Linked DNA regions of Homo sapiens: regions 2, 3, 4, 5, 6 and 7 are each reported to be linked to region 1. Evidence: microRNA targets listed by miRTarBase, many of them from high-throughput screens and not tested one by one. Region 1 holds a microRNA gene; each other region holds the end of a gene's coding sequence. Distances are from middle to middle.
The links. Region 1 holds the annotated microRNA hsa-miR-7106-5p (UGGGAGGAGGGGAUCUUGGG, at 2,250-2,269, opposite strand). A microRNA usually pairs through its seed, bases 2 to 8, with sites in the 3' UTR of a target mRNA and lowers its output. Matches are read on the target gene's strand: a 7mer-m8 pairs with bases 2 to 8, a 7mer-A1 pairs with bases 2 to 7 and ends in A, and an 8mer does both.

Region 1 (4,066 bases):
GCTCCACGGAGGGACATGATGCCTTTTCCCACCTCCCCTAACACTCCCTGGCCTCCGGGCCTGGGACTCACACTGTCCTGCGGCTGCCAGAATTCAGTAACAGCTTCATTTGTTCATTGCATTATTTTTCCAGTTGCCCCCTAGTTATGACAAGGGGTAACTATTTTTTTCCATTTTTGGTGGAGATAAAAAGTTTCCTTCTCAGCTGTTGATACGGTGATGAATATGAGGGGGAGCCCACAGATGGTTGTAAGTTCACCCTCAAGTTCTAGTTTTTACAATGGATCCATGGTATTTATTAAGTTCATATTCATAAAGAAGTTAATTAAAACAAAAGGAGAGCCACCCACGGAGATAAGAGTAGGTCACAAACCAATGAATATGACTGATCCAGTTACAAGAAAATAAAGCTGATTGATGTAAATGAAAATACTAATTGGATAGTGCAGGTGACAGCAGCGAGGAAGCTGTGAAGGTGTCTGCTCACGCAGCAGTTGGGAAGGTTGGCCTGAGGCTTTCAAAACCCAGAACGGTTTAGGATCTCAGTCACCACCTCTGGGAACCACCATCATCACTGTTCTTTTAATGAGGGGATCTCCAGTCCCCGCCCTACCTTTCGGCCTCCCCCGCGTGTTGAGGGGTGGGGGCTGGACAGTGACTCTGGGGCTGGGATGTGACTTCGTGCTGGGCCCCCCCAGGTGAAGCTGTTCATGCAGGACCTCTCTGCCATGCTGGCCGGCCTGGGTCAGGCTGAGCCTGCAGCCCCTGCCTCCTAGCCCTGACACAGGTGAGCAGCGGGAGAGGGAACCCCTGAGAGACCCTGAGATAGGAGGGCCCACATTTCCAATGGGGTGTGGACTGAGTGGCTCTTCCTGAATCCGTTTCCTCATTGGGAAGATGGGAGGGCTGTGCCTGTTCAGAGTGCTGTGGGCCTGCCATGAGGGGCACATAGCAAGCACTCCATAAATGCAGGCCCTGATGAGGAGGTGATGGGAAGGTCAAGGGGCTATGTGTGGGGCAACTGCCTCTAAAATGAGATCAGACCAGGCCCTCCCTGCCAGGGTGGTTGGGGCATGAAAAAAAACTCTTTGTCAGGTCTCAGAACAGGGTCCATGCTAGATGAGAGATCACCAAGGCCCCCTCCACTATGGACTCTGCCAGGTGAGGGGCCCAGCCTGAGAATCCAGCTGCTGGGGCTGCCCTTGACCTTCTCAGAACCTCAAACAGGGGGTGGGTGGCAAGAAGACAGAGGACAGGCCAGGTTCTGACCTCCAGGTGTGGAGGGGCCGCGTTAACCTCTTCATAGCCAGAGGGGAGCAGCTGTGTCCTTGCCCCCTGGGCTGGGCATCCTGTTCCCCTCCCCCAGCCCACTCCCAGCTGCAACCATGTCCAGTGGGAGGAAGGGGGACCAACTCCCGCCTCTGGCACCTGGTTTGTGCTCTGAGCTTCACTTTCCTCATCGCTAAATGGACAAGGCAGCAGAACTCACCCTCAGGAGACCCGCAACTCCTCTGCCACGTTAGCTGGGATTTTAGTACCTGGGTCTCTCCATTCCAGTTCCCCAAGTAGACCGCACTCCTGGCCACCAGCAGTGCTCAATAAAGATTTATTACATTAAAAATTCCATTGCCAAACCCTGAGGCACTCAGGGCTCTGACCGGTGCAGCCATGACCTCTGAACCCAGAACACATGGAAGCAGCAGCAGCTGAGTTGCCAACTCAAGTCTTGGCCTGCCTGGCTTTGCTGGCGAACTCCTGCACACCCTTCAAGGCCCTGTTCAAATGTCTCTGTCTTAGGCTGACGCAGCTGCTGCCCTTCTGTGGCCATACAGTGCTCCTTTTCACAGATGATGGCTCCTGCAGGGAGTGCCCCCAGTGCCCAGCACAGGGCCAGGCACACAGTGGTGCACGGGAACGTCTGCTGATGCCCACCCTAAGGCCAATCAAGGAGCCACGGGGCTGGGTCCTGGTCCTCACATCCTCTTCCGCATCTTGCCCTTCTTGGAGCGGGCACCCCGGCCGAAGGCGCCCTGCTGCAGCTCCTGGACGCGGCGGCGGTTGCGGGCAGAGAGCTGCTTGAGGCCACCACGCTGCAGGAAGTGCAGCTTCTGGGCCCGGCGCCGCTGCTTCAGGATCTGCTGCTTGGTCTTGAGTTCCGGGCGGACTCGGCCTGCAGGGGTGCCTGGGGCGTGGGGCCGGGATGCACCTGCTGGGACAGGGATTCAGGGAGCTCAGCTGTTGGGATCACTCCCAAGATCCCCTCCTCCCAGAAGCTTGCAGACTCCTCCCCTGCCCCTACTCCTGTTCTGTGCTTATTGCTGTGGCCCAGTGTCTGTACACAGTAGGTGGCTAATAAAGTTTTAGGCAGCCTCATGGAGTGGTCAATAACACGGGGCCAGAACCGCTGGGGTTCAAATCCCAGCTGTGACCTCTTGGACCGTGGGCAAGAAGTTAACGGCTCTGTGCCTCAGTTTCCCCATCTATGAATTATAAATCACAGCACCTCCCTCATGGGTGAAGAGTAAATGCATTTCCATGGTGTAAAGTGGTCAGAATTTCAAGGCCTGTCCCATAGTGGGAGCCTTTTGGGCATGACTGTTACTATTAAAAATTCTCCAACCAAGGAGTGTATGTCTCCACAGCACACCTACGGCACGCCAGGCTCTGAGGCCCCCCATAGTAACCGATACAGACCTCAGCCTCTGTCTCCATGGACACCATGCTCTAGGCTTGTTAGATGAAAAAAGAGTGTAGATGAACCTTCCTTTAGGTGGGAGAGGAATCAAAGAAGGCCAGAGAGGGAGAGGGACTTATCTGAGATCACACAGCAAAGCAGCAGCAGCAGCAGAGGTCAGCGACCCTGCCCCAGCCCCACAGGTGGGCATCAGGTAGTCCATTCTTCTAGTTCTCCGGGAGGCAAGCACCACCCTCCCTGGCTCCCACTAAGCCCTGTGTCCTCCTCCTCCTCTTCCCCATTCATAACAGCAGCCTCCCCAGGGCTCCTAGAGGGATGACCATTAAGGTGGTCCCAGCTGTCTCCAATGGAGCCAGGGTGCCTCGCAGGACCTATCACCTCCAATGAGGACAGCAAAGGAAGAACAGCTGCTTTTTCCCAAAGCCCACAGGTCGCCCCCGTCTCCCCAGCCCCTGCACGCCCACTGCACGGCAATGCTCGCAGCAGAAGCTGCTGTTTCACCTAGGTAAAAACAGGCTGAGAAGTGAGGTGTGGGTGGTCCCCACCCAGCCATGCTGACAAGGAGACACTCCCACAGATGGGAGAGCTGGAGAGGGAGGAGCCACAGAGAACAGGCCCAGGCAAATGCACGCAGGCTCACAGAGACACCCAGGGGAGGCAGTGACCAGCCCCAGGAGGTGGAGGGACACAAGCAGGGGCTAAGGCCATCTGAGAGAGACCCAAGACATGGTCCCAAACTCCCCTCTCCCCAGGGAAGACTCCAGGTGGGAGCCTTGGGCAGCTGGGTGACCCAGGTTCAGTCATAGCCCTCATAAGGCACCTGTTTCCTGGCCTGTAAAATGGGTATTCGCAGTCACCTTGCCTCCCAGGTCATGTGTGGCCTTCCAGGACAGAGCCTGCCTGCACCCAGCAAGCGGGAGCCCCTCCCTGATAACAGCCCTTAAGCACAGGCTCTGGCAGACAGAGCCGGCTTCAAATCCACCTTAGCTTGTTACTGGCTGAGGGACCCAGGCCAGATCAAAGAGGTCCAAGTCCTCAGATGACCAAATGTACCACTTGCCAACCCACATTTCAAGGAAGTATCTTCCTCAACATCCCCTGTGATCGCCTCCTCCCAGAACCAAAGCTGCTTCTGACTGCGTCTTTGGTGACATGAACTTCCCCACAGCATTGCTAAAAAGAACGTCACTCCTAAGGATGCCACAGGGAATCAATTCATGCTCACTGTCAGGTCGAACCACATGCAAATGCCATTTTTGCAGGTGAAAATGGCCTGCATTTGCACAAGGTTCCACCTCCCGGGTTCTCTAGGATTTTACACAATCGGCTTAATTAGGTGAACAGGGCATCTACCAGAAGTTATCCCTGTAG
Region 2 (4,066 bases), not on the chromosome of region 1:
AAAGCATTTAAAGAAATTTTCAATTTGTTGCTCGCTGTAAGAAGATACTCTTATATTTTCTGTTACTATGTTTTTATTCATAAGAACATACGCTAAAAATTCGCAAAACAATAGGTGGGGGGCCACAAGAGGAAGGCTGGACAGATTATCTGGTAAAAGTAGCAGCCAAAAATTATTTAGCACTTGGAGTATGCCAGTACTGAGCTAAATCCTTAACATTCATTATTTCACTTGATTCTCACAACCACCTCATGAAGTAGATTCTATTAAATTACCAATATGGAAATACCAATGAGGAAAGGTCACATCCTTAGAAGTGTCAAACTTCTAAGTTTGACAGAAGTTATATCAGTCCATAACTTCTGTCATCTGATGTCTGGACAGACATCAGTCCATGTTACGTATACCTTAATATATGAAAGAAAGACCAACACCATCCATCAAGTTGACATGTGTATTTATTGCACAAATATCCCCTAGAACTGGGAGGTTATTATAATACAAGTGTACATTTGAGAAATGTATACAGAACAAGAAACAGCTATGTACATATCCAACATCTAAGTAACTTAGAAAAAGCAGAACAATCTCATAAGACATCTACCAGAAGTAGGCATTATGTAAAATCTGTTTTTTTAAGTGATCATCCCCAGAGTATGCCAATTGGAACAAAACAAAATCTGTACTAGTATGTTTTTATTGCACTTAACATTTTCAAACTCAAAATTAAGACATATTAATAAAAGCCAGAAATATTTAAAATCAAACCAATTAGTTTATATACAAGAAAAAATTAGTTTTAATTCTATAATGTAAAAGATCCCTTTTTTATTTCCTGTTTCAATAAACAGGTTTTTTTTGATATGTAACAACTGTCTGTACCATAACTTGTAAAAATTATTTAGAACAAGCCAAAACTCTTTTCACATTCATCATAATGACCACACTTTAAAGTAGCAGCAGCTCATTCCTTGGGCTTTGCGTAAGGAAAGAATGACTATGGTGAAGGTAATAGAAATTATAGAAGGATTAGGAATTACAAAACTCAGGAATGGGAAGCAGTGGGGAGGAACAAAACAGTAACTCAGGAATCCTATAAGGATTAATGATTCTTTAAGAAACTATAGGTCATTTCCTTCCCAGCAAAGCTTAGCTTTAGGAACAACAATAGCATGAGCCACCCACTTATTGAGGACTAGAATTTCTAAACGGTAATTAAACATTTTAAATAAAGAACAGTTTGATGGTTAAGGAGACACCCAGACATTATCCAAGTGCTATACAGAGCTACAATAAAAAAAAAAAAAAGTACAAGGCTGGGCACAGTGGCTCACGCCTGTAATCCCAGTACTTTGGGAGGTCGAGGCAGGTGGATCACTTGAGTTCAGGAGTTCAAGACCAGCCTGACCAACACATGGTGAAATCTCATCTCTACTAAAAATAAAAAATTAGCTGGGTGTGGTGGCGCACACTTGTAATCCCAGCTACTTGGGGGCTGAGGCAGGAGAATCACTTGAACTGGGAGGCGGAGGTTGCAGTGAGCTGAGATCGCACCATTGCACTCCAGCCTGGGTAACAAGAGTGAAACTCCGTCAAAAAAAAAAAAAAAAAAAAAAAGGTACAATGGCCCGCAAATGTATGAACTTTTTAATATTCTGAATTCTGCCAAAAAGATTGACTCATAGAATTCCAAAATCAGACAACTGGATAATTTTGTTAATGCACAGAATAAGAAAATTAAGCCAAAGAAAATATATCCACAAACACTCCTTGGCAGCAAGTCATCCATGGGAGACTCAGGTAATAACTGGGACTAGGTAAAAGGTCATGGGCCAAACAGATTGCAGACACACCAATTTCAGGTTTACATTCCATTAAAACAACAATTTTTTCTTTGTCTAGTTGGAAGTCTCTTGAATACATACACAGCAAGGCAAAATGTGACCCAATGCTGTAAATTCAAGGTCAAAGACAACTTTCCATTAACTATTGAAAATTTAAACAGCAAGAATGGATGTGTTATATAGTAAATATATTTAATAACTGAATAAACAAGTGGTTTTCTTTTTTTAATCAATGATGAAATTATGATGAAAATAGTCAATGAAAGCAGAAACCAACTTTACTACTAGCATTAAAAGTCTCTTAGACCAGATAAGCAAAGAATAAACTATAATGTAGTACTCAAGTAAACTGAGGTAGTAGAAAGTATTGAAAACTTTATCCACCCACCTTTCTATTTACATTACTTACAAGAGTTTGGTTCCATATTAGCCTTTCTTACAAGCAACACTCTATAGTATGTACAAAGGCAACAATTGAGAAGTGAAAATCTTTGAAAAAAATACACTTTTGGAAGGGAGGGACTCTTAGAAAAAAAGAGAATAATTTTAAGAGTTATGAATAGTGTAAATTGAGGATTATTAAGCAGTGAAACAAATATTCAGCTCCTATGGGTTCATGAGGGTTGATACCAAAAGCAAGGGCCTTGGCTACCTGAGCACTTTTAAAGAATATAGTATTGTTTTTGCCGATGCTTTGGTGCAATTTTTAATCCTAATTTTCATTTATGTTAAATTAGTGAATATGTAAATATTAATATTTATAAGAACAGTTCATACTTATAAACAAATGGTATAAAGTAGTATTCTCATTTTGGGAATCTCAGCCTTAAAAAAAAGGTTGGCTTTACTTATATTTTAGAGTGTGTGAAACAGAAAAATCACCAATAAGTAATATTTCAGCATTATAGACAATACTAGTTGAAAATATATATATTTTTAAAGGCATGTTTACCAGTCTTGTATTTCTATTTCTGCTTTTTAAAAAAAAATAGGTACATATGTACACTTGGGTGGATAACATAACACATTTACACTCATTATTCTGAGTTTCTTATAATTAACAGGCTGTTTAAAATACTTACTTTGAGAAATAACCAGACATTAGCTGTTTTGAATTGCAAAACTAACAAATAATCAAGGTTTTATAGATCTCTGTACCTTAGAAATTAAAAATTAAAAACTAATGAATAACTATTTCTGAGCCATTAAATCATGAGACACTGTTGCTATTTATGAGCTGTGACAACACTGCAGTGATCACATGAAACTCTTGATAATATTCATTTTGTAGAAATTTCTACCGTACACTTTGGCTTTTTCAAATGCTTCAAAATTATTGTTGCTTTAATTTCATTTGTTTAAAAATCTACCACCACCCAAAAGTCCAGTCAAAAAGAAAAAGCCATCTGACATACACAGAATATACAATGCTATGCAGAATACCCTGGTGACTGACTCATTCAGATGGAAGTCTAAAAGGGAAAAAGAATCTCCATAAATGCATGTTGTGTCTGCTTCCTTGGTTTCTACCTATTTTCCCACCAATTTCTAACAATTTTTAGGTATATTAAAGGAGTATTTGTGCAACATATGGAGAGTGAGTGCTTGCTACAGCAGCCAGAAGTGGAAGATCACTGGATTCAATCCTGAAATAAAGGGGAAAAAAATGTCAGTTTTGATTTTCTGTACTGAGGACATGAACTCTACAGGCAATGACCACCAACTGTAAGGTCACTATACCTCAACGGTTAAGGAGCTAGGCCACTCTGGCCGAAAGGAAAAATTCTCAGTAAATAAAACACAGAACTACAGATACGAGTAACAACATCATAAACGTAGAAAAGTGTCTCAATGACATGCTGATGGAACATGAACTGGGGCATGGCACAATGACTAACAACTGCAATCTAGTGTAATAATAGCTGGGTGAGGTGACTCGTGCCTGTAATCCCAACACTTTGGGAGGCCTAGTTGGGAGGATCGCTTAAGCCCAGGAGTTGAAGACCAACCTAAGCAAGATAATGAGACCCTGTCTCCACAAAAAAATTTTAAAAACTAGCTGGGCATGGTGGTGTGTGCCCGTGGTACCAGCTACTCTGGAAGCTGAGGCAGAAAGATCTCTTGAGCCTGGGAGGTTGAGGCTGAAGTCAGCTATGTACCAACAGCAGGGCAACAGAGCAAGACCCTGTCTCAAAAAAAAAAAAAAACAAAGAATAATAATG
Region 3 (4,066 bases), not on the chromosome of region 1:
CTCATGCCTTTAATCCCGAGGTGAGAGTTTTTGTTGTTGTTGTTGTTGTTTTTATCATATCTACTTTTTCTTGAAACATCTCTGGCATTTAGCAAAGTTAGAACGAGTTATTCCTGGGACAGCCTTCCCCTTTAACTTTGTGGTGCCAAAAAGCTACCTGTCTGGGCTGGTGGAGAAAGAAAAACATACACCACCGTGGTTGACCCCAGCCTAGGCCACCTTGCCCGTGGACTGTGTGGGCAGCTTCCGGGGACAGGCCCGGGCAACAGAGGCGGTTCCACTCCGTGTGTCAGAAGGAGGTAGTGAGACAGAAGAAGATATTTTTAGAGGCTGCAACTTTCCATTTCTCAAAATGCGTCCTTCTTGGTGAGCATGGGGGCTGGGATGAGAACAGTGGGCCCCAAAGGCTTGTGTTGCTTGGACCAAGATCACGAATTCAGGACATTAAGCACCTCCCCTCCCCTGACTCCACCCACTGAGCCAGTGCCCCCAACACTGATGCCTCTCCTCTTGCCCCTTAGTCATCCAAGGAGGAAGCCGAGATGGCCTACAAAGACTTCCTGCTCCAGTCCAGCACCGTGGCCGCCGAGGCCCAGGACGGCCCCCAGGAAGCCTAGACGGTGTCGCCGCCTGCTCCCTGCACCCATGACAATCACCTTCAGAATCATGTCGATCCTGGGGCCCTCAGCTCCTGGGGACCCCACTCCCTGCTCTAACACCTGCCTAGGTTTTTCCTACTGTCCTCAGAGGCGTGCTGGTCCCCTCCTCAGTGACATCAAAGCCTGGCCTAATTGTTCCTATTGGGGATGAGGGTGGCATGAGGAGGTCCCACTTGCAACTTCTTTCTGTTGAGAGAACCTCAGGTACGGAGAAGAATAGAGGTCCTCATGGGTCCCTTGAAGGAAGAGGGACCAGGGTGGGAGAGCTGATTGCAGAAAGGAGAGACGTGCAGCGCCCCTCTGCACCCTTATCATGGGATGTCAACAGAATTTTTCCCTCCACTCCATCCCTCCCTCCCGTCCTTCCCCTCTTCTTCTTTCCTTCCATCAAAAGATGTATTTGAATTCATACTAGAATTCAGGTGCTTTGCTAGATGCTGTGACAGGTATGCCACCAACACTGCTCACAGCCTTTCTGAGGACACCAGTGAAAGAAGCCACAGCTCTTCTTGGCGTATTTATACTCACTGAGTCTTAACTTTTCACCAGGGGTGCTCACCTCTGCCCCTATTGGGAGAGGTCATAAAATGTCTCGAGTCCTAAGGCCTTAGGGGTCATGTATGATGAGCATACACACAGGTAATTATAAACCCACATTCTTACCATTTCACACATAAGAAAATTGAGGTTTGGAAGAGTGAAGCGTTTTTCTTTTTCTTTTTTTTTTTTGAGACGGAGTCTCTCACTGTCGCCCAGGCTGGAGTGCAGTGGCGCAATCTCGGCTCACTGCAACCTCCGCCTCCCAGGTTGACACCATTCTCCTGCCTCACCCTCCCAAGTAGCTGGGACTACAGGCGCCTGCCAGCACGCCTGGCTAATTTTTTGTATTTTTAGTAGAGACAGGGTTTCACCGTGTTAGCCAGGATGGTCTCGATCTCCTGACCTCGTGATCCGCCTGCCTCTGCCTCCCAAAGTGCTGGGATTACAGGCGTGAGCCACCGCGTCCGGCCTCTTTTTTTCTTTTCTTTTTTTTGAGACAAAGTCTCACTGTGTCACCCAGACTGGAATGCAGTGACACAATCTCGGCTCACTGAAACCTCTGCCTTCCAGGTTCAAGCTATTCTCATGCCTCAGCCTCTCAAGTAGCTGGGACTACAGATGTGGGCCACCATGTCTGGCTAATTTTTTTTTTTTTTTTTTTTTTTTGTAGAGACAGGGTTTCGCCATGTTGACGAGACTGGTCTCGAACTCCTGGCCTCAAGTGATCTGCCGCCTCAGCTTCTCAAAGTACTGGGATTATATAGGCATGAGCCACTGAGCCTGGCCCTGAAGCGTTTTTCTCAAAGGCCCTCAGTGAGATAAATTAGATTTGGCATCTCCTGTCCTGGGCCAGGGATCTCTCTACAAGAGCCCCTGCCCCTCTGTTGGAGGCACAGTTTTAGAATAAGGAGGAGGAGGGAGAAGAGAAAATGTAAAGGAGGGAGATCTTTCCCAGGCCGCACCATTTCTGTCACTCACATGGACCCAAGATAAAAGAATGGCCAAACCCTCACAACCCCTGATGTTTGAAGAGTTCCAAGTTGAAGGGAAACAAAGAAGTGTTTGATGGTGCCAGAGAGGGGCTGCTCTCCAGAAAGCTAAAATTTAATTTCTTTTTTCCTCTGAGTTCTGTACTTCAACCAGCCTACAAGCTGGCACTTGCTAACAAATCAGAAATATGACAATTAATGATTAAAGACTGTGATTGCCACCAACGAGGCTCAGACTGTATTTGCACCCAATACCTTCTGTCTCCCAGACAGCCTCTTCAGAGCTTTTCTTTTCTTTTTCTTTTCCTTTTTTTTTTTTAAGACAGGGCACTCTGTTGCCCAGGCTGGAGTGCAGTGGTGCAATCATGGCTCACTGCAGCCTCAACCTCCTGGTTTCAAGTGATCCTTCCACCTCAGCCTCCAGAGTAGCTTGGACTACAGGCGTCCACCACCACACTGGCTAACTTTTTGTATTTTTTTGTAGAGACAGAATTTCGCCATGTTGCCTATGCAGGTGTTGAATTCCTGGGCTCAACTGATCCTCCCACCTCTGCCTCCCAGAGTGCTGGGATCACAGATGTGAGCCACTGCATCTGGCTGCCTTTTGCTTTGGTCCCAATTTTAGGCACCCTGGGACCCCCTTGTCTGTTAAGATCATTCCTAGGTTCTGGTGCTGAACCATGTCATATCCTCTAAGGGCTGCCCAAGCTGTCTGTTGGCAGCTAGCCCCCCATCTCACCCCTAGACTCTTCCACAGGGCTTCTGTGTGTGGAGAGTTCTCTCTGCAAGAGAGTTCTCCCCAGTCTGCCATCCTGCCTGATGTGAACCTTTGCTTCCACCCAGGCCTTAAACATAATGCTGTGGATGCTATGAGCTTCCCAAGCCTACCTTTTCCTGGGACTCAGACTTCAGGCCTCCTTTGGTGTTCCCTCCAGCCCCACTAACTGCAGTACTCCAGTCTCAGTTCCCAGGCCCTGACCTGGGTCAGAGTCTTGGGCTTCTATCCAGCCAGAAGAGGGGGCATCAGAAATGTTTTTTTCTTTCTTCTGTGATGGGGATGCATACCTTCTGGAATGACAGCAAATCGTTCCAGGAGGATCAAAATGACAGGTGTGTCAGAAACTACCACTGTCTTACCCTTCCAGGAAGCTGTTCTCTGACTCACCAAAGGGCCATGTTTATGGTAGAGGATTAAGATGCAACTTCTGTACGCATTGCAATAACCAGCGAGCCAGTCCTGAACTCGTGTAGCCTATCCCAGCCCTTTGAAGCAAAGGTCAAGAAATGTCACTAAAGCCAAAAGCGATCTTATATTATTCCTAAGTGATATTGTCAGTAAGGCTCAAAGTCCATCTGCTCCCCGTGTAGCACAAGAAACCCTTTTAAATAAGGAAGCTAGTTCATAGGTTCCAGTGGACGTGAGTTTGGAGAGGATATGATTCAGCTTAGTATAGGGGAGTGACCATAAACTGCAGGATTGATGATGATAAACCAATTAGCAACGGTCAGTGGCCCCGAGCATTCAAGGAACTGTTTAAACATTTGATGACAAGGAAATCTTTCCCAAGTTCTTGAATTATCTTAATGTTTATTCTTTTTTAAAAGTCCAATATGTAAAGACAGGACTATTATTAAGGCCCAACAGGACTATTATGAAGGCCCAACTATTATTAATGCTCAACCACTGCTGGGCATTATTAAGGCCAAACAGTGGTTAGGAATTTTTTTTTTTTTTTTTTTTTTTTTTTTTTTTTTTTTTTTTTGGTAGAGACAGGGTCTTGTTTGTTGCCCAGGCTGGTCTGGAACTCCTGGCCTCAAGCAATCCTTCTGCCTCTGCCTCCCAAAGCATGGGGACGACAGGCGTGAGCCACTGCACCC
Region 4 (4,066 bases), 3.9 Mb from region 1:
ACTACTCACAGGAGGTTAGTGGTGGGGCCGGGCGAGTAAGAGACCATCTTAGTTTGACTGATGTATAGAACCCCACCCCCCCCGCCGTGACACATTGCACCCTATGGGCTATACCCTCAGGCAGGGCCCTGCCTTTCTGCGAATTGGAAACATAAACGTGGATGCTGACCTGTACTGAGCACCCAGCATCTGATGCAGGACAGCCCCGTGGGGCGAGTCCACGCTGTCGGCTGTACAGAGAGGGAGGGCAAGCCGTATGCTGAGGGGCCTGCTGTGGTTAGAATCCTGTCAGGGGCAAGGCCCGCCCTCTTGAGTCCTTGCCCTGTGACACTCACTGCGCCCATCGGACTTGTGCACCCCCACGTTGACCGCTAAGCCGGGGACTGTGAGTATCTGACGCTGTGTGCCCAGAGAACGCGTTTGTGAAGCTGAACCTCTATCTGGTCTCAGGCGAACGCCTCCTGCACAGACAGAAGCGGCTGGGGTGAGGGCCAGCGAGGCAGCCCTGACCTGTCACCATCTTTGTGCTCTTTCTAGACACCGGGGGCTGATCCGCGCCTATGAGTTTGCGGTGGACCAGCTGGCCTTCCAGAGCCCTCTCCCTGTCTGCCGTTCATCCTGTGACGCCATGGCCACTCACTACTACGACCTCGCACTGGCCTTTCCCTATAACCATGTTTAGGGATGTGCCTCAGTTGGGAGCAAGGAGAAAAATGGGAAGAACCAGTTTTATCCATCTTAAAACGCCAGGCACCTCTTCACAGGTGGTAAACATTTAGGGGAAGAAAGCAGCCCAGGGTGCCATGCCTGACAGCACGCATCTCCCTGACCCCTGCACTTCCCCCAGCGCCTGGGGCAAGCTGGCGTGTGCCAGGGCTCGAGTCCCACGTGCTGCCAACTCAAACATAGCCTCCTTCCCCACCCAGCTGGCCACCCTGGCCTCAGCTCCCTCAGGACGCCTCAGGGATCTCGCTGCGCGGTCCTATACGGTCCCTGCTTAGCCAGCTTCTGTGTGTCCGCCCTCCCAGCTCCAGCCCTGCAGGCCGTCTTTTCCGTCTCCAGCCCCTTACCTCTTTTCCTCCGAGGGCCTTTGGATGTGCTTGTTCCTGGCCTCCAAGGCAATAACCTCCATGTCCTTTTCCCTGTATTTACTTGGGGTGCTCTTCTGTGACACTTGCCACCACCACCTTCCAGTAGCAAGCTGGTAGAGCTGTACTTTTTCTTCACAGCTTTTACCATGGTTTATAATTATATACTTATACAGTTTAGTCATCAATGACTATTTTGCTTACTATTGTGTCTATGATATGTGATACAAAGCAAATATTTTCTAAATATTCATTGACTAAACAGCCATCAAGATGAAACAGGACAGGAGAGAACTGTTCAGTGTGATACAGAGCTGCCATTTCCAAAGTATTCTGGAAGCAAGCCATTGCCTTACTCTTGATTTTCAACAGTTCTAAACAGCAACAGCATCCACCTAATATACCTTCAGAATATCAAAGCGAAAACTGATAGAACTACAAAGAGAAATAAAATCCATTCTCACGGCAGGCAAATCAGTGAGAAAAATGTAAAGATCTGGAGGATTTACTTAGTATCGCTAACAAGCTGGATCCAGTAGATGCGTATGGAATTTCAAATACACATAGACGATGCACAAAAAACCACCCTGTACGAAGGCCACAAAGAACAGCTCAGATGCACAAAGATTCACACCATACAGGCCAAATTATAGAATCCCCCAACCCCAAGACACTGCACCCTATGGGCTATACCCTCAGGCAGGGCCCTGCTTTTCTAGGAATTGACTCCAATGCAGAATAGTGAGAAATCAACAAAAAGCAAAATAAGACAATTCCAGACACTCCTGAATTTACTTGGATTTAAAGAGGTTAATAAAAACAAACTATAAACTCTCTAGACTGGGCTGACAGTAAAAGCACAGAATACAAAACCCAGGGGATGGGGCTGGGAGGGGCTGTGAGGGGCTGGCACCTCAGCTCAGAAAAGGTAGCAGCAATCCCAAAGCAGCAGAAGGCAGGGGTTAAATCAGGATAAAAACAGACATCAGTGGAATCGAAAACCAATAGTTAGTTAATATAAAGCCAGAAGGTTTTGTTTTTTTTCAGGTGGGGTCTCGCTCTGTCACCTAGACTAGACTGGAGTGCAATGGCCTGATCTCGGCTCACTGCAACCTCTGCCTCCCGAGTTCAAGCAATTCTCCTGCCTCAGCCTCCTGAGTAGCTGGGATTACAGGCGTCCGCTACCACAACTGGCTAATTTTTACATTTTTAGTAGAGACGGGGGATATTGCTATGTTGGCCAGGCTGGTCTCAAACTTCTGACCTCAAATGATTGCCTGCCTCAGCCTCCCAAAGTGCTGGGATTACAGGTGTAAGTCACTGTACCCAGCCCAAAAGCAGTTTAAAAAAAAAAAAGACAAAATATACAACTCTTGATAAAACATAAAGGTACAGTGGTCTATGAGGAAGAGAAAAGGTACCTGAGGATGCAGAAGTACCTACCACATGGGAACCGTTTGTCCACACTCATTCCAGAGAAAACCGAGTCCTCTCAGTTGCACACGTGTACGTATCAGTGGGAAGTGCTTGCCATTACTCCAAAGCCTAGAACCTTCACGTCATGAAGGTTCTGGAAGGTTTTTCAGATTGCTTAAGATACGCAGCCATTCCATATTCATCTCCAACTACACAGGGGAACGGAGCAGATAGAGCTGCGACTGGGAAGCGTCACCTTCCCGTCCAGAGCGCTTTCTTTCAGACCCTGCCTACCTGCAGGCAGATGGACCGGAGGGTTTTCTGCTTCCTTTCAACCAGATAACTTCCTAAGTGGAGATGGCCTGTAGGTAGCAAATGCAGGATTTTGTTTACTTTCATCATGTCATGTGGTGGTCAGACTGCTCGCTGGTGGCCTCGCTTTAGAAGGTTTTCATCAAGCCCCGCCCTTTCTCTCTCATAGTCTTAATGCGTCTGGACCACTGGGGAAAATATTTTTCTTTTCAAAAAGCAGCCCCTTCAGTCTGCGTTCCCAGTTCATTTTGCAGGCGCATTCGCCCTTCCTAGTTTGCAGCAATTAAAGATAACGGAGTGTAAAGTCATTAGACCCAGAATTAGAGCAGCCAGCAGCTGGCCCAGTGTAAAAATGTCCCAAGTGTAGCCCCTCCCACCGCAGAGCCTGTTTCTAACGTACCTGCCATTCGTGGAAGTCGCCTGGGTTTTGTAAAGGAGAATTTTTTGGACTCAAGCTGTCATCTTCAAGCACGCCAACTTCAGGCAGTGTTTTCTACTGCAAACCTCCACATCCTGGAATCAATCACACTGACAGGGAAAGGATAAATGCTCCTTTATAAGCCAACATGTATCCAAATTAAGCCCCCTTACCTTTATCCAGACCCTTTCACAAACAAGTTCTGAGTTTTTAGCCAATTGATCCTCTACTTTCCTTCTTTAGTCCCTCTCAGGGACGCCTCCATCCCCGGCTCCCCTAAAGGTAGAAGATACTCGAGCATGCTGCCAGGGGAGCTGGATGGTGAAACACCTGAAGATCTCATATCGCCTCTCAAAACACTGTCGGACTTGCTTTCTGCTTTATGATGTCCGTAGTTGTTCTAATATTAAATGCTTTGAATTTCTTTATTGGTCAAGTTATTTTAACTTGGGCAAGGCATACAGTGATAATCCCCTGGCATGCCACGATTCCAGCTCTTCCCACCCCCTTGAAATCTTACCTCCCACCGTGGTGGTTTTGTAAACCCACAGTCAATTGGATTTGCCCAGAACCTCCCCTACAGGCGCTCCCAGCCCAGGATCCAGGAGACCCGCAACATGGTACAGTAACTCTTCACCAACCGTCATCAATAGGTTTTCTTAGAAACTACAACTTTAAGCAAAATGAGGTATAATGAAACTAATTTTGGCTGGGCAAGGTGGCTCAGGCCTGTAATCCCTGCACTTTGGGAGACCGAGGCAGGCGTATCACCTGAGGTCAGGAGCTCAAGACCAGCCTGGCCAACATGGCAAAACCCCATCTCTACTAAAAA
Region 5 (4,066 bases), not on the chromosome of region 1:
GGCCATGTCCCTGTCCCCCATGGACCCATCTCTGACCCCACATGGCACAGCCACATCTGTGCCATGGACCCATCTCTGCCCCTGCCCCATGGACCTGCCTCTGCTCCACTGCGGTCTCTCGCCAGGCCCTACCCCGATCACCTCTGCCTCACCCTGGGTGCCCACGGTTCCACTCCATATCCCTGCCCCAGAGGCCTGGAGGCGGCCCCACGACCATCCACTCTTTGATATCCTGGTGGTGAGGGCTGAAAGGGCGGAACTGCCCACCAGGCCAGATGGGAAGGGAGGATGGACAGACGGTAAGACAGGGACGCACAGATCAGGGAGAAGAGCCCGGGGACACAGGACGGACAGCAGGTGGCCATGGCCCCACCCCTTCATGCCCTCCTCCTCCCCAATCAGGGACCCTCATGTGCAACCCCCTTACCCGGCACTGCCTGGGATGTGGGGTCCCCATCACCGGCCGCTCAGCCCTGCCGCCCACTGCGCCCTGGCTCTCCGGCAAGCCGCTTCCTCCCTCCCTCTTCCTGGGGCGGCTCCTCAGCTCCTCCCGCCGCCCTTGCTGGCCTCCAGGGGCCGCTCCACCCCGCGCACGCCCGCTGGGGGCCTGGAGTGGCAGAGACCCCCCTCTCTGCTCCTGGCAATGGGCGGGGGCCACTCTGGGCCCCAGCGGCTCCCTCCACGAGGAGTGAGGCTCCCTGGAGTTGGTCTGGCCCCATGTGACCCCCTCCTCCCAGCAGGGCGGGAGCAGCCCCCTTCCCCCCCAGGATCGGGCCTCTTGCCTCATTAATAAAGCGGATAAAATCTAAACACTGGAAAATGTGAGCGTCGTCTGGGGCGGGCTGGGGCAGCTGCAGGGGGTGCCACTGCCCCCCTCCCTGGGGCTTTGGAGCTAGAGAGGCTAACTCCAATTCTGTGGGGCCAGCAATGCCCCCCCTGCCCTGCCAAAGCCTTCGTGGATGTCGGGGTGGGTGCTGGTGGGCAGGGCCTCGGGTAGACCAGCTTGGGTCAGGCCCAGCCTGGCCAGGGGATCCGCCTATTTATACAGGGGCTTAAGCCCCGGCTAGGGCCACAGCGAGTCATATCCTGGGAGGAGGCTGAAAGGGGGCAGGGGAACCAGGAGGCCTGGCGACCTGGGGACTCTCCCCAGTGACTGGCTCCTTTAAGATGGGCTGAGTGACACCTGTGACACACGTCCTAAGACACAAAGACTCGCCTCCTGCCCTGAGAAGTAGGGTCACACTGGCACAGCCTCACACCCTAAGACATACAATCCTGTCACTTACCACTCAGTTTCATCCTGTCCCCATCTCAGCACAGCCAGGTTGCTGCCGCCACATCCCTGAACTCAGGGTCTTACCCCCAGCGCCGGGACGCACCCAGAGTTACTGCCTCAATTCCAGCCCCTCCCAACACCCCAAAATGCAGCCCTCTGAGATGATCACCCGAACCACCCTCCTTAGTGCTGGGAAATAGGGTCTCACTTGGCACCCCGAGAGATACACACACGCACACACACTCCTTATTGCCAAAACTGCCCCTGACCACACTCTGTTTGACTTTCAATGACCCCTCAACAATCCCAGACAGGCCCCACCAGCACACTCCGTACACCCAAGGCACAAGAAGTGACACCCCCCGCCGCTGGACACCAGAGACCTAGCTGGCCACCCCCACCCTCACCCAGAAACAGCAACGCCCTGAGACACACACACCTGCACCCCTAGAGACCCCTAGACCTAGCCAGCACCCCCACCCAGGAAACAGCAACACCCCGAGACATACCCTGACACCCCTGAACACCCCAAGGCCTAGCCAAGCACCCCTCCTTGCCCCAGAAACAGCACCCTAAGACACACACCCCCACACCCCGGGACACCCCAAGACACAGTCACTCCGTTGCACTCCCCACCACCAGACACTGCCAGTTACACCTGCAATTGCCCTGGAACACAGAGCCGGTTATCACATCCCTTACCCACGACACAGCCCTCCCTCATTGCGTCACGAGCCATCAACACTCTTGATAGACTCACAGTGCTACCCAACACCCGAGACACACATAGCCACACCCCTTCACCACCGCAAGCGGCTCCCAGCACAGACACCTGAGGAGCCCACAGGTGCCCGGGGATGCCCTGAGTCACCAGGACTGCGGCTCCCCGACTCCACCCGGGTCTGTCCACCAACACCCAGCCCCCAGGGTCTTCCCCTTTTCCCCCTTCCCCTCTTCCTGGTGGCCCAGTGCCCGCCCGCCTTTTGGAACGAGGATTGCAAGCTGGCCTCGGACTTCCCCACAGCCTCTCGGCTCACCCCCAAGCATTCCTGTGGGGCCTTCTGGCCCAGCGCCCCTTGCTTCAATCCCTTCCCTTCCCTCCAGGTCTGGCCAGGGTCCCACCCCGCCTTTCCCTGATCACCCTCAATCCTCGAAGATGAGTGGGTTGTCAAAACAAGTATGCTGGGTTTATGTCTAGGACAAAGCAGGGTGCCCCATGGACGCCTGCGTGTCCAGCATTGGGCCGGGTGGGGTGGGGGCTGCCTCACGCCTGCCCCCAACCTCCCGGTGTAGGGGTGGGGCTCTGGCAGGCCTGAGGTTCCATCTTTCTATTTCCAAGCCAGGTTTCAATGCCCTGGTGCTCCCCACGGTCCGGGGGTTGTCACCAGCTGCAGACAGCAGCCTTGTGAAGCTCCAGGGGGTAGGAGGCCTTGTGGGAGAGGGGGCAGGATTTGAACCCTCAGTAGTCCAGGAAGCTCTGGCCCTGCCTGGAAGCCTGGTGGCCTGCAGCCAGAAGGAACAGTGGGAGGGGGCAGGTGGCTTGGTGCCAGCTCCTAATTCAATTTGGAGCCTGCGGAAGATGGATTTCAGCTGCTGAATTCTTTCTCAGCCCCAATCTTCCCCCTCTCCCACCCCGAAGCCACACAGGTCCAACAGCAGATAGATTCTTTATGTTCAAGACAGCAAATTCAGATACAAAAACCCACCGCCATCGTCCCTCCCTCCCTCCTGCTCTGGGCCAGGGATGGGCCTGGAAGGAGAGATGGGAGGTGGGGAGGAGGTTGCGGGGTTCACAGCAGACTCGTGTCAAATGCGGAGGTAACAGGCTCCACAGGGAGGGGGCTCCTCTCAGGAGGGGTGAGGGCATTATTGCATTTGCTGGGGGGAAGGACAACCCTCTCCCCTGTATTCCCTGCGTCAGGAAACTAGGAAGGTCATGACCCCCAAACAGAACCCAAGGCCCCAGGGAGACAGAGGGACCAGTTTGGCAGCTGATGGTGGAAAGTGGTGGAGGCGGGGGTGGCCGCCCAATTTGGCTGATCCCTCCCCTCCCTGTGCCTGACCCAGCTGAGGTAGGTGGGGAACAGGGCACAGGGGGGCCGGGGACCCCGGCCAGACTGGGAACCAGGGAGGGGATGGTACCGATTGGAGCGGGGCAGGGGGCCTGGCCCCACCTCCCCTCACCATCGTCCTTGGGCTGCTGAGCTAGGCTCAGGCTGGAGGCTCGGGTCCTGACGTCAGTGTCCCTGCTGGGGGCCCCCACCAGGTTGCGCCCGGGTCATCATCGCAGGGTCCGGGGGCAGTCCTAGTAGCGGCCGACCTTGGCGTCCCCAATGGCGCCCCAGACGTCAAAGACGAACTCGTCAGGGAAGGCAAAGTCACCCAGCCGTTCGTCCAGGGCCTCGGCCAGCTCATCCGGGTTCCTTTTGTCCTTTCCCAGCTCCACCATGGTGGCCGCTATTGGGGGAGGGGTCAGAACGGAGGCACAAATGACACCAGGGACCAAGGGGCTCAGGGTGGATTCGGCCCCCAGCAGACCTAGATGCCCCCTCCCCCAGGCAGCCCTCACTCACCCAGCTCCGTGTCCCTGATACCCATGTAACTCTCCAGCAGGTCATCCACCTTCTCAATGGCCTTCTCTTCAAAGGCAGAGGGCTGGGGGCCAGGGAGGGGTGACAGCGACATCATAACAATGTGAATATACATAGTAATTGGACGGACTGCCATTGTCACCACTTTACATATATTCGTATTTAGACCTCAGGACAACCCTGAGAAGGTGGTATCGGT
Region 6 (4,066 bases), not on the chromosome of region 1:
CTCCGCGCCGCCCGCCTCTCGGCTGCCCAGCAGCTCCCGCAGCTTGTCCGCAGCCGGGGCCGTATCCCCACTGCTGGCCCCGCTGCCCTTCAGGCGCTGCCGAGCCCCTCGACTAGCCATGGCAAGCCTGGGGAAAAAAGAATTCGGCACCCTATGAAGTCGGTGAGCGCGCAGACATAGCTTTGGCTGGCAAACGGTGTCCGCCGAGGGACAAAAGACCTTGACATGCGCAGAAAATACTAAATTATAGCGTTACTGGGCCAATTGGGGCAGATCCCCGAGTAGCGAAGAAATAGAACCTGAGGAGTTTCTTCATCAGGGCTGTCCCATCCACCTGCTTCTAACTCTAGCCATTCCTACCTCCCTCCAACCCTCTTTTCCGTCACTTTTCAGCATTCTCCATTCTCAAAAAAAAAAAAAACCACCTCTCAGCTCCCCTATTTAAATGAAAAAACAAATAGAAAGTGATTAAAGAAATCTACATAGTGAGATGTGAAGTATTCAGTTAAATATCACAGCACAGCTATCTACTAAAAGGTCCTTAAAATGTCATTTTTAACACCTTGCCTTCTCTGTATTTTGGTAAGAGTGACAGAGGCAGCCTGTAGCTAAAAACTGCTTCAGAGAGACAAACCGGTAATGGCAGAGTGTAGACTGATGAAATTCTGTGCGGCAAATTGAACCAGATGTCCATCACTGTCATCGCTACTACGGCATTGTGGTAGGCATTTTACATATTTTATCCTTTTTAAACTTAATACAACAACCTTGTTTTATTTACCAGGAAACTAAATAAACTTGGAGCTAGTAAATGGTGGAGCTATGTTCCAGCCCAGGACTATCTTACCGGAAAGCCCATGCTCTCTCTTCCCACCAGATCTGGTGAAAGGTCTTCATTTCCTACAATCATTTTTATACTGGCACATTGATGATATCATACCTGTGACCCCCATATCTTGGGGGTCATTCATCTAATCCTGACACTCTATCCACTCCTCTAATCACAGAGCTATATCCTACCCTGTCGAGCTCCATGCCAGTAACTGGGACAAGTTTATAGAGGGAATGCTAATCTCTTGACAAGGTCTCAGAAGGTTGTGATTTCCTACTAAAAATTCCCAAGTATTGAAAATGGAGATTGATCATATTGCTCAATTCTCACATGCAGTCATTAGTTACCAAGTTCAAATATCCAGCTTAACTCTTTTTTTCTTTTCTTTTTCTTCTTTTTTTTTTTTTTTTTTTGAGACAAGAGTCTTCCTTGCTCACCCAGGCTAGAGTGCAGTGGCACAATCTCAGCTTACTGCAACCTCTGCCCCCTAGGTTCAAGAGATTGTCTTGCCTCAGCCTCCCTAGTAGCAGGGACTATTGCCACCACACTGGCTAATTTTTGTATTTTTAGTAGAGATTAGGTTTCGTCATGTTGGCCAGGCTGGTCTGGAACTCCTGGCCTCAAGTGATCCACTTACCTCAGCCTCCCAGAATGCTGGGATTATAGGCGTGAGCCACTACACCCAGCCTAACTGTATCTCATATACCCATCTCCTCCTTTTCATTTAAGTCTAATGCAGGTCCCTCCCTGTCTACGTAGGACTAACACAATAGCATCTCCACAGGGATCACTCATCTCAAATTCATCCTGTGCAACATTAACCAGTTAATTTTCCAAAGCACTACTCTGGGGCACTTCCTTAATAAAAAACCACCGGATGTTTTCCTATTGCCTACCAAATAAAGTACAAACTCCTTATTCTAGCATTTGGTATTCATGAACTCCAGCCCCAACTTACCGTTCCAATCTTATCTCCCACTACTTTCCTATGCACACTTTACATCCCAGCTAACTAGCCTAGAAAGTGCCCCCAAATGCTCCCTTATCTATATCTCTGTTTATGGATGTCCTCTGCCCAAAATGCACACCCTACTTGCCTAACAATTCTCCCTTCACATTCCTGCCCTTGTTTTAAGATCCAGCTTTCAAACGCTACCTTATACATGTACCAAGCACTACTGAGGATAGAAGAAAGGGATAAATCACATTACCTGCCATCAGTTAGCAAAATAGTCAATGTGGAGAGCTCAGCAATAGATGTGTCTGTAAGAGATCCCTTGATTCTTTATCCCACTCCCCAAACTTACTCGTATGGCAGTGTTTCCATCCAAGTTAATGACACTTCCAATCTTCTAGGTATTCAGGTCAAAAACCTAGTAGTCTTGCTTAATTCCTTTATTTCTCTAACCCCACACCTCTCTCACCCACACACAAATGTTTAATTCATCAGCAAGTCCTTCCAAATATTATCCAACCCAACATTTTACCACCTTGGTCCAGGTCATTATCTCATTTGCATTACTGCAATAACCTCCTAATTTGTCTCTGTACTTCCATTCTTGCCTTCCCAAGTGCTTTTCTCTAAGAATAAATAAGACAGTCATGTCTCTCACAGAATATAATCCCAAATGTGGAGCCTAACTATTAACAGGAGCATACATTACTTCACATTAGAGTACCGCATTCTGCAGAATCCTAAGCTAATTTTCCAGTGTCCCTTAGAGATACTTACAACAGAAGGCCCCAAAATCCAGAGAGGCAAAGTTTAATCACAGTTGAACGATTACTGTTAAAGACTAGGGAAGAAGTAACAGAAAGTAGCAGAAAGAACATGGGCTTTAGAGTCAAACAGACCCAAATGTTAACCCTAAATCTGACACTTTATTCGTTCCATGACTTTCAACCACAGAATTAAAATGGTGATGATTATAATAATAATACCAAAATTAATGTGGAATATTTGCAATTTCCCAAGCTAATAAATGTTAGTCTGATGCCAAAAACTACTCTCATAAGGTGATTTAATGAAATGATACAACAAAGTTAAGGGAAGAGTAATTGACAGTGTGGAAAACATATTTATATTTGATGAGACACTTAAGTTCTACTGCCTGTTCAACAATAGAGCATCTAAAGTACAAGATGCTGTTTTGTTTATTGTTTTAGTCACTTCTCGGGACCAAAATATTACACAACTCCAAATGTCACCAATCACATTATAATCTATAAGTTTCAGTAATAGAGTCAAGGTATCTTTAAGATCAACTAACAGTAGGCCGGGCGCGGTGGCTCACATCTATAATCCCAGCACTTTGGGAGGCCGACGCAGGCAGATCACGAGGCCGGGAGATTGAGACCATCCTGGCTAACACGGTGAAACCTCGTCTCTACTAAAAATACAAAAAAAAAAATTAGCCAGGCGTGGTGGCAGGTGCCTGTAGTCCCAGCTACTCGGGAGGCTGAGGCAGGAGAATGGCATGAACCTGGGAGGTGGAGCTTATAGTGAGCTGATATCATGCCACTGCCACTGCACTCCCGCCTGGGCGGCAGAGCAAGACTCCGTCTCAAAAAAAAAAAAAAAAAAAGATCAACGAACAGTAGCTATGGTCACAAAGTAAAAGATTTTACAAAAACAAAAATCCAGAAAGGACTACTGGTTGCAAGTTGGTAATTTTCCTCCACATCCCCCGCAATGAAGGATCACACTGCAGAAAAGGATTTACCAAACTACCGAGGTATAACATATAGGTGTTGTTGAATCTCCTTCCTAAACTGGGACTGCATTGATGCTACTTGCTGCTGGGTGAGGGCCTTGTCACAGGTCTGGTAGGTCAATCTATAGCAGAGACTGACCTGTTGAGTCTTTGGATGCTGGAAACGGCTAAGAAACTGTATGGATATAATAGTGTCCTGAGACACTGCTCGGGCCACAGTGTGAAACTCTAGTTCATCAAATCCTTTCTTCTGATCTATCCAAAAACTAACATCATGCACATAACATGGAGGATACAGAGAATGACTTTTAAAGGGTTCTATTTTGCCAGGGACAAAATTTTTCAGGAAACGGTTATCAAACGTCCACAACATTCTCCAGTCAGAGATACACCAGACAAGCATGGCTAATAAGTCCAAGTTCATAGACACAAACACAAAACACTGGTCTTTATGTATAACACTAGTGGCAGATGTGATAACAGACCCAATAATTAGATCCTCAGTACAATCTGGGCTAAA
Region 7 (4,066 bases), not on the chromosome of region 1:
AGGCTGGTCAAGTGGCAGGGTCATGAGGGAGACATCGATAAGGGTGCTCCTTATGCTCCCTGCTCTGGAATCCACCAGCGGGCTATCTGCGTTTATGGGGCTGGGGACTTGAATTGGATGCTTCAAAACCATCACCTGTTGGCCAACAAGTTTGACCCAAAGGTAGATGATAATGCTCTTCAGTGCTTAGAAGAATACCTACGTTATAAGGCCATCTATGGGACTGAACTTTGAGACACACTATGAGAGCGTTGCTACCTGTGGGGCAAGAGCATGTACAAACATGCTCAGAACTTGCTGGGACAGTGTGGGTGGGAGACCAGGGCTTTGCAATTCGTGGCATCCTTTAGGATAAGAGGGCTGCTATTAGAGTGTGGGTAAGTAGATCTTTTGCCTTGCAAATTGCTGCCTGGGTGAATGCTGCTTGTTCTCTCACCCCTAACCCTAGTAGTTCCTCCACTAACTTTCTCACTAAGTGAGAATGAGAACTGCTGTGATAGGGAGAGTGAAGGAGGGATATGTGGTAGAGCACTTGATTTCAGTTGAATGCCTGCTGGTAGCTTTTCCATTCTGTGGAGCTGCCGTTCCTAATAATTCCAGGTTTGGTAGCGTGGAGGAGAACTTTGATGGAAAGAGAACCTTCCCTTCTGTACTGTTAACTTAAAAATAAATAGCTCCTGATTCAAAGTATTACCTCTACTTTTTGCCTAGTATGCCAGAAATAATATAAATATAAACAGATAAAGTGTGTGAGACTTTTTCTCATAACTATTCATGACATTTAAAATCCCTAGGGGCTGGCAAGAGAGTTCTCATTATTCTGAAATGGTCCTGACAAGCTGCATGAATAGCAATTTTTTTTTTGAGACAGAGTCTTGCTCTGTCACCCAGGCTGGACTGCAGTAGTGCAATCTCAGTTCACTGCAACCTCCGCCTCCCAGGTTCAAGCGATACTCCCACCTCAGCCTCCTGAGTAGCTGGGACTACAGGCATGCAGCACCATGTCTGGCTAATTTTTGTATTTTTAGTAGAGGCCGGGTTTCACCATATTCGCCAGGCTGGTCTTGAACTCCTGACCTTGTGATCTGCCCGCCTCGGCCTTCCGAAATGCTGGGATTACAGGTGGGAACTACTGCGCCTGGCCTACAAATAGCAAATTCTAACGAAGACAGGGGAACAGGGATGGTTCTTCCATTGTTAAAAGCCATCCTCATTTTGTTTATATTGCCAGGTTTGTGATTTTTCTGTAAAGGAAAAGGCAGGGTGATTTAACCAGTTTGACCACCTTTCCTGTACTCTTACAGGAAAATCGCAGCACTAATTCTAATTTTGTCCACTTTACAGCCAAAGCTTAGCTAATGTTCCATAAAGGAGATAATAGCCAATCAGGTAAGGTAATGTGTAATTCATTATTCAAAGTGGAACATGTTTTTGTAGGGGGAGAGTCTGCACTATTAATAATTGTATTGAGAAATAAAAATAAACTAGGACTATTCAGTTAAACCAGGATGTCTTATTATTCCATGTTTAGGCCTCTTGAGTCAAAACTCTTTTTTTTTTTTTTTTTTTTTTTTTTTTTGGAGACAGGTTCTCACTCTGTTGCCCAGGCTGGAGTGCAGTGGCATGATCTTGGCTCACTGAAGCCTCTGCCTCCCAGGTTCAAGTGATTCTCCCCCCAAACCTTGCAAGTAGCTGGGATTACAGATGTGAGCCACCATGCCCAGCTGATTTTTGTGTATTTTTAGTAAAGATGGGGTTTCACCATGTTGGCCAGGTTGGTCTCAAACTCCTGGCCTCAAGTGATCCACCTGCCCCAGCCTCCCAAAGTGCTGGGATTACAGGTGTGAGCCACCATGCCTGGTCCCCTCTTGAGTCAAAACTCTTATTTCAGAATGCGAATGGAAGGATCGCTATTAGTGATTCTGCAGATTACACATTTCCTTGCGGGGAGACAATAAGGTATGTGTAAATACATATATGTGTGTGTATGTATACACACATACAGCACGCTACCTCCCAAGTGTTACCTAGTGAAACAGTTTCCTTTCCGAAGCTCCAGAGATGGTTGTTGGCTAAGTTATACTCTTCTGTGATGGGCAAGGGATACTATAAAAACATAGGCAGTGCCCTTTGAATATAGTACAGCTCATCTTCTGCATACGATATGCCCTGGAAAGGTGATTTATATGCAAGTTAATTGGTGTAATCTGAAGGATGCTCCCATTAATACGTCATGATGTCATTAATATGTTTCTTCCTTTCTGATTTTTGTTTTTTTTTTTTTTTTTGAGACAGAGTCTCACTCTGTCACCCAGGTTGGAGTGCAACGAATGGCGCAATCTTGGCTCATTACAACCTCCGCCTCCTGGGTCCAAGCGATTCTCCTGCCTCAGCCTCCTGAGTAACTGGGATTACAGGTGTGTGCCACCTTGCCTGGCTAATTTTTTTGTATTTTTTTAGTAGAAACAGGGTTTCACCATGTTGGTCAGGCTGGTCTGAACTCCTGACCTCAAGTGATCCACTTGCCTTGGCTTCCCAAAGTGCTGGGATTACAGGCGTGAGCTACCGCACCCAGCCCTTTCTGAGTGTTGTCATTCAATTCATCAAGTTTTCTGTCATGATCAACTTTCTCTATGCAAACCCTGTAACTCTGACAGTTATCACTGTGTCTGACACAGTGAATTTTTTATTTATAAGGTAGTTACTTTTGGCCAGGTGTGGTGGCTGACGCCTGTAATCCCAGCACTTTGGGAGGCCAAGGTAGGCAGATCACTTGAGGTCAGGAGTTCAAGATCAGCCTGGCCAACATGGTGAATCCCCATCTCTACTAAAAATATAAAAATTAGCCAGACATGGTGGTGGGTACCTGTAATCCCAGCTACTTGGGAGGCTGAGGCAGGAGAATCGCTTGAACATGGGAGGCAGAGGTTGCAGTGAGCTGAGATCGTACCACTGCACTCCAGCCTGGGCGATAGAGCCAGACTGAGTCTCAAAAAAAAAAAAAAAGTTACCTTTTTTTGGTAAGGTTGTACTTCTTAGATAATGGTCATTGTCACTACCAACTTGCCTGCATTGTAATAGAGTCCTATTCACTTTGCTCCCAACCCCACTACGGAGATGACTGATGACTAGTTGTATACACAGTGGGTGTGCCCTGAGAGGTCTGTTGCCAGCAGTGGTGATCGATCACGGCCTCCCCCTGCTGGCTGATGTGATGGTCCTTGGTCCTCCTCTGAAGGAGGTAGAAGGGGCACACGGCCACCGTGGGAAGTAGGCAGAAAAGCCTCCCTGGGTGCAGATTCTCTGAGAAAAGAACTTTGGCCTCATAGTTAACTTACTCCAAAAGCTTTCATGTGAAATAATTTATAATTTTTTATATAAATAAAAAGATTAAAATGTGAACTTGTCATTTTTTTGGGGATAAGTTACTGAAATTTTTCAACCATTGAAATTTTCTCTAGAAATATATTCAGGTGCGTAGGAAGTGCTGTTTATTTAATAACACAGGGTCTTCATATCAGAGGGGTCGAATTTAGCCCTCATTTGTTTAGTGTATTATAGAAATCATACACCAACACATCTGCTGATTTTTCTCTTCCCTCTGAGTCATATCTGTGTCTTTAACCGTTCTCTGGTAAGGAAAAATCTCACAAATTAATTGAACAACTGTGTTTGTATTACCTCTCAGGGTTTGGATTTCCTCCTTATTTTTTATCTGTGGGCTATTGGTAAGCATTGTTTTAATAACTGCATTTTTGTTGTACACTCTGCTCATTGTAGTTTTTGTCTTTCTCTTGGTTGAGTGGAAAAAATGTTTTTTTTTTTTTTTTTGGAAACGGGGGACTCACTCTGTTGCCCGGGCTGGAGTGCAGTGCTGCAGTGATGGCTCACCACAGCCTCGACCTCCTGGGCTCAAGCAATCCTTCCACCTCGGCCACCTGAGTAGCTGGAACTGCAGGCGTGCTCAGGGAGTCTGAGGCTGCAGTGAACTATGATCATTGTGCCACTGCATTCCAGCTTCAGTGACAGAGTGAGACCCTGTCTCAAAAAGCAAAAACAAAAAACC

Region 2: miRTarBase lists FNIP1 as a target of hsa-miR-7106-5p. Seed matches in the 3' UTR shown: 7mer-A1 at 1,520-1,526, 7mer-A1 at 1,354-1,360, 7mer-m8 at 1,065-1,071 and 7mer-A1 at 484-490.
Region 3: the mRNA of PIGR is a reported target of hsa-miR-7106-5p. Seed matches in the 3' UTR shown: 7mer-A1 at 1,458-1,464, 7mer-A1 at 1,490-1,496 and 7mer-A1 at 1,624-1,630.
Region 4: miRTarBase lists FBXW8 as a target of hsa-miR-7106-5p. Seed matches in the 3' UTR shown: 7mer-A1 at 1,021-1,027, 7mer-A1 at 2,375-2,381 and 7mer-A1 at 3,186-3,192.
Region 5: the mRNA of GIPC1 is a reported target of hsa-miR-7106-5p. Seed matches in the 3' UTR shown: 7mer-m8 at 3,049-3,055 and 7mer-A1 at 3,040-3,046.
Region 6: miRTarBase lists FDXACB1 as a target of hsa-miR-7106-5p. Seed matches in the 3' UTR shown: 7mer-A1 at 3,317-3,323 and 7mer-A1 at 3,146-3,152.
Region 7: miRTarBase lists GCNT3 as a target of hsa-miR-7106-5p. Seed matches in the 3' UTR shown: 7mer-A1 at 934-940, 7mer-A1 at 1,650-1,656, 7mer-A1 at 1,818-1,824 and 7mer-A1 at 2,013-2,019.

The regions. Positions count from the first base shown.
Region 1 is chr12:113,156,904-113,160,969 of GRCh38, forward strand. MIR7106 (microRNA 7106) reads right to left here and starts at 2,274; the gene lies at 2,210-2,274. CFAP73 (cilia and flagella associated protein 73) reads left to right here. Exons shown (of 8, transcript NM_001144872.3): 7 at 699-787; 8 at 1,798-2,373. The coding sequence ends at 776. DDX54 (DEAD-box helicase 54) reads right to left here. Exons shown (of 20, transcript NM_024072.4): 20 at 270-2,206. The coding sequence ends at 1,974.
Region 2 is chr5:131,641,274-131,645,339 of GRCh38, forward strand. It overlaps FNIP1 (folliculin interacting protein 1), which reads right to left. Exons shown (of 18, transcript NM_133372.3): 18 at 441-3,490. The coding sequence ends at 3,412. Among named protein-coding and RNA genes, the nearest start is that of RAPGEF6, 8.1 kb to the left of the region's middle.
Region 3 is chr1:206,926,869-206,930,934 of GRCh38, reverse strand. PIGR (polymeric immunoglobulin receptor) reads left to right here. Exons shown (of 11, transcript NM_002644.4): 11 at 522-2,413. The coding sequence ends at 617. Among named protein-coding and RNA genes, the nearest start is that of FCMR, 7.0 kb to the right of the region's middle. RefSeq lists enhancers at 1-473, 97-597, 524-813, 1,284-1,333.
Region 4 is chr12:117,027,491-117,031,556 of GRCh38, forward strand. FBXW8 (F-box and WD repeat domain containing 8) reads left to right here. Exons shown (of 11, transcript NM_153348.3): 10 at 1-14; 11 at 538-3,658. The coding sequence ends at 682. Among named protein-coding and RNA genes, the nearest start is that of TESC, 70 kb to the right of the region's middle.
Region 5 is chr19:14,474,835-14,478,900 of GRCh38, forward strand. GIPC1 (GIPC PDZ domain containing family member 1) reads right to left here. Exons shown (of 9, transcript NM_005716.4): 8 at 3,850-3,931; 9 at 2,928-3,733. The coding sequence ends at 3,582. It overlaps PTGER1 (prostaglandin E receptor 1), which reads right to left and starts at 520. Exons shown (of 3, transcript NM_000955.3): 1 at 428-520. RefSeq lists enhancers at 505-1,173, 3,513-4,028 and a silencer at 1,590-2,072.
Region 6 is chr11:111,871,363-111,875,428 of GRCh38, forward strand. FDXACB1 (ferredoxin-fold anticodon binding domain containing 1) reads right to left here. Exons shown (of 5, transcript NM_138378.3): 5 at 2,694-4,066. The coding sequence ends at 3,560. ALG9 (ALG9 alpha-1,2-mannosyltransferase) reads right to left here and starts at 219. Exons shown (of 15, transcript NM_024740.2): 1 at 1-219. The coding sequence starts at 120. RefSeq lists a silencer at 1-164.
Region 7 is chr15:59,619,322-59,623,387 of GRCh38, forward strand. It overlaps GCNT3 (glucosaminyl (N-acetyl) transferase 3, mucin type), which reads left to right. Exons shown (of 3, transcript NM_004751.3): 3 at 1-3,402. The coding sequence ends at 234. Among named protein-coding and RNA genes, the nearest start is that of GCNT3, 9.6 kb to the left of the region's middle.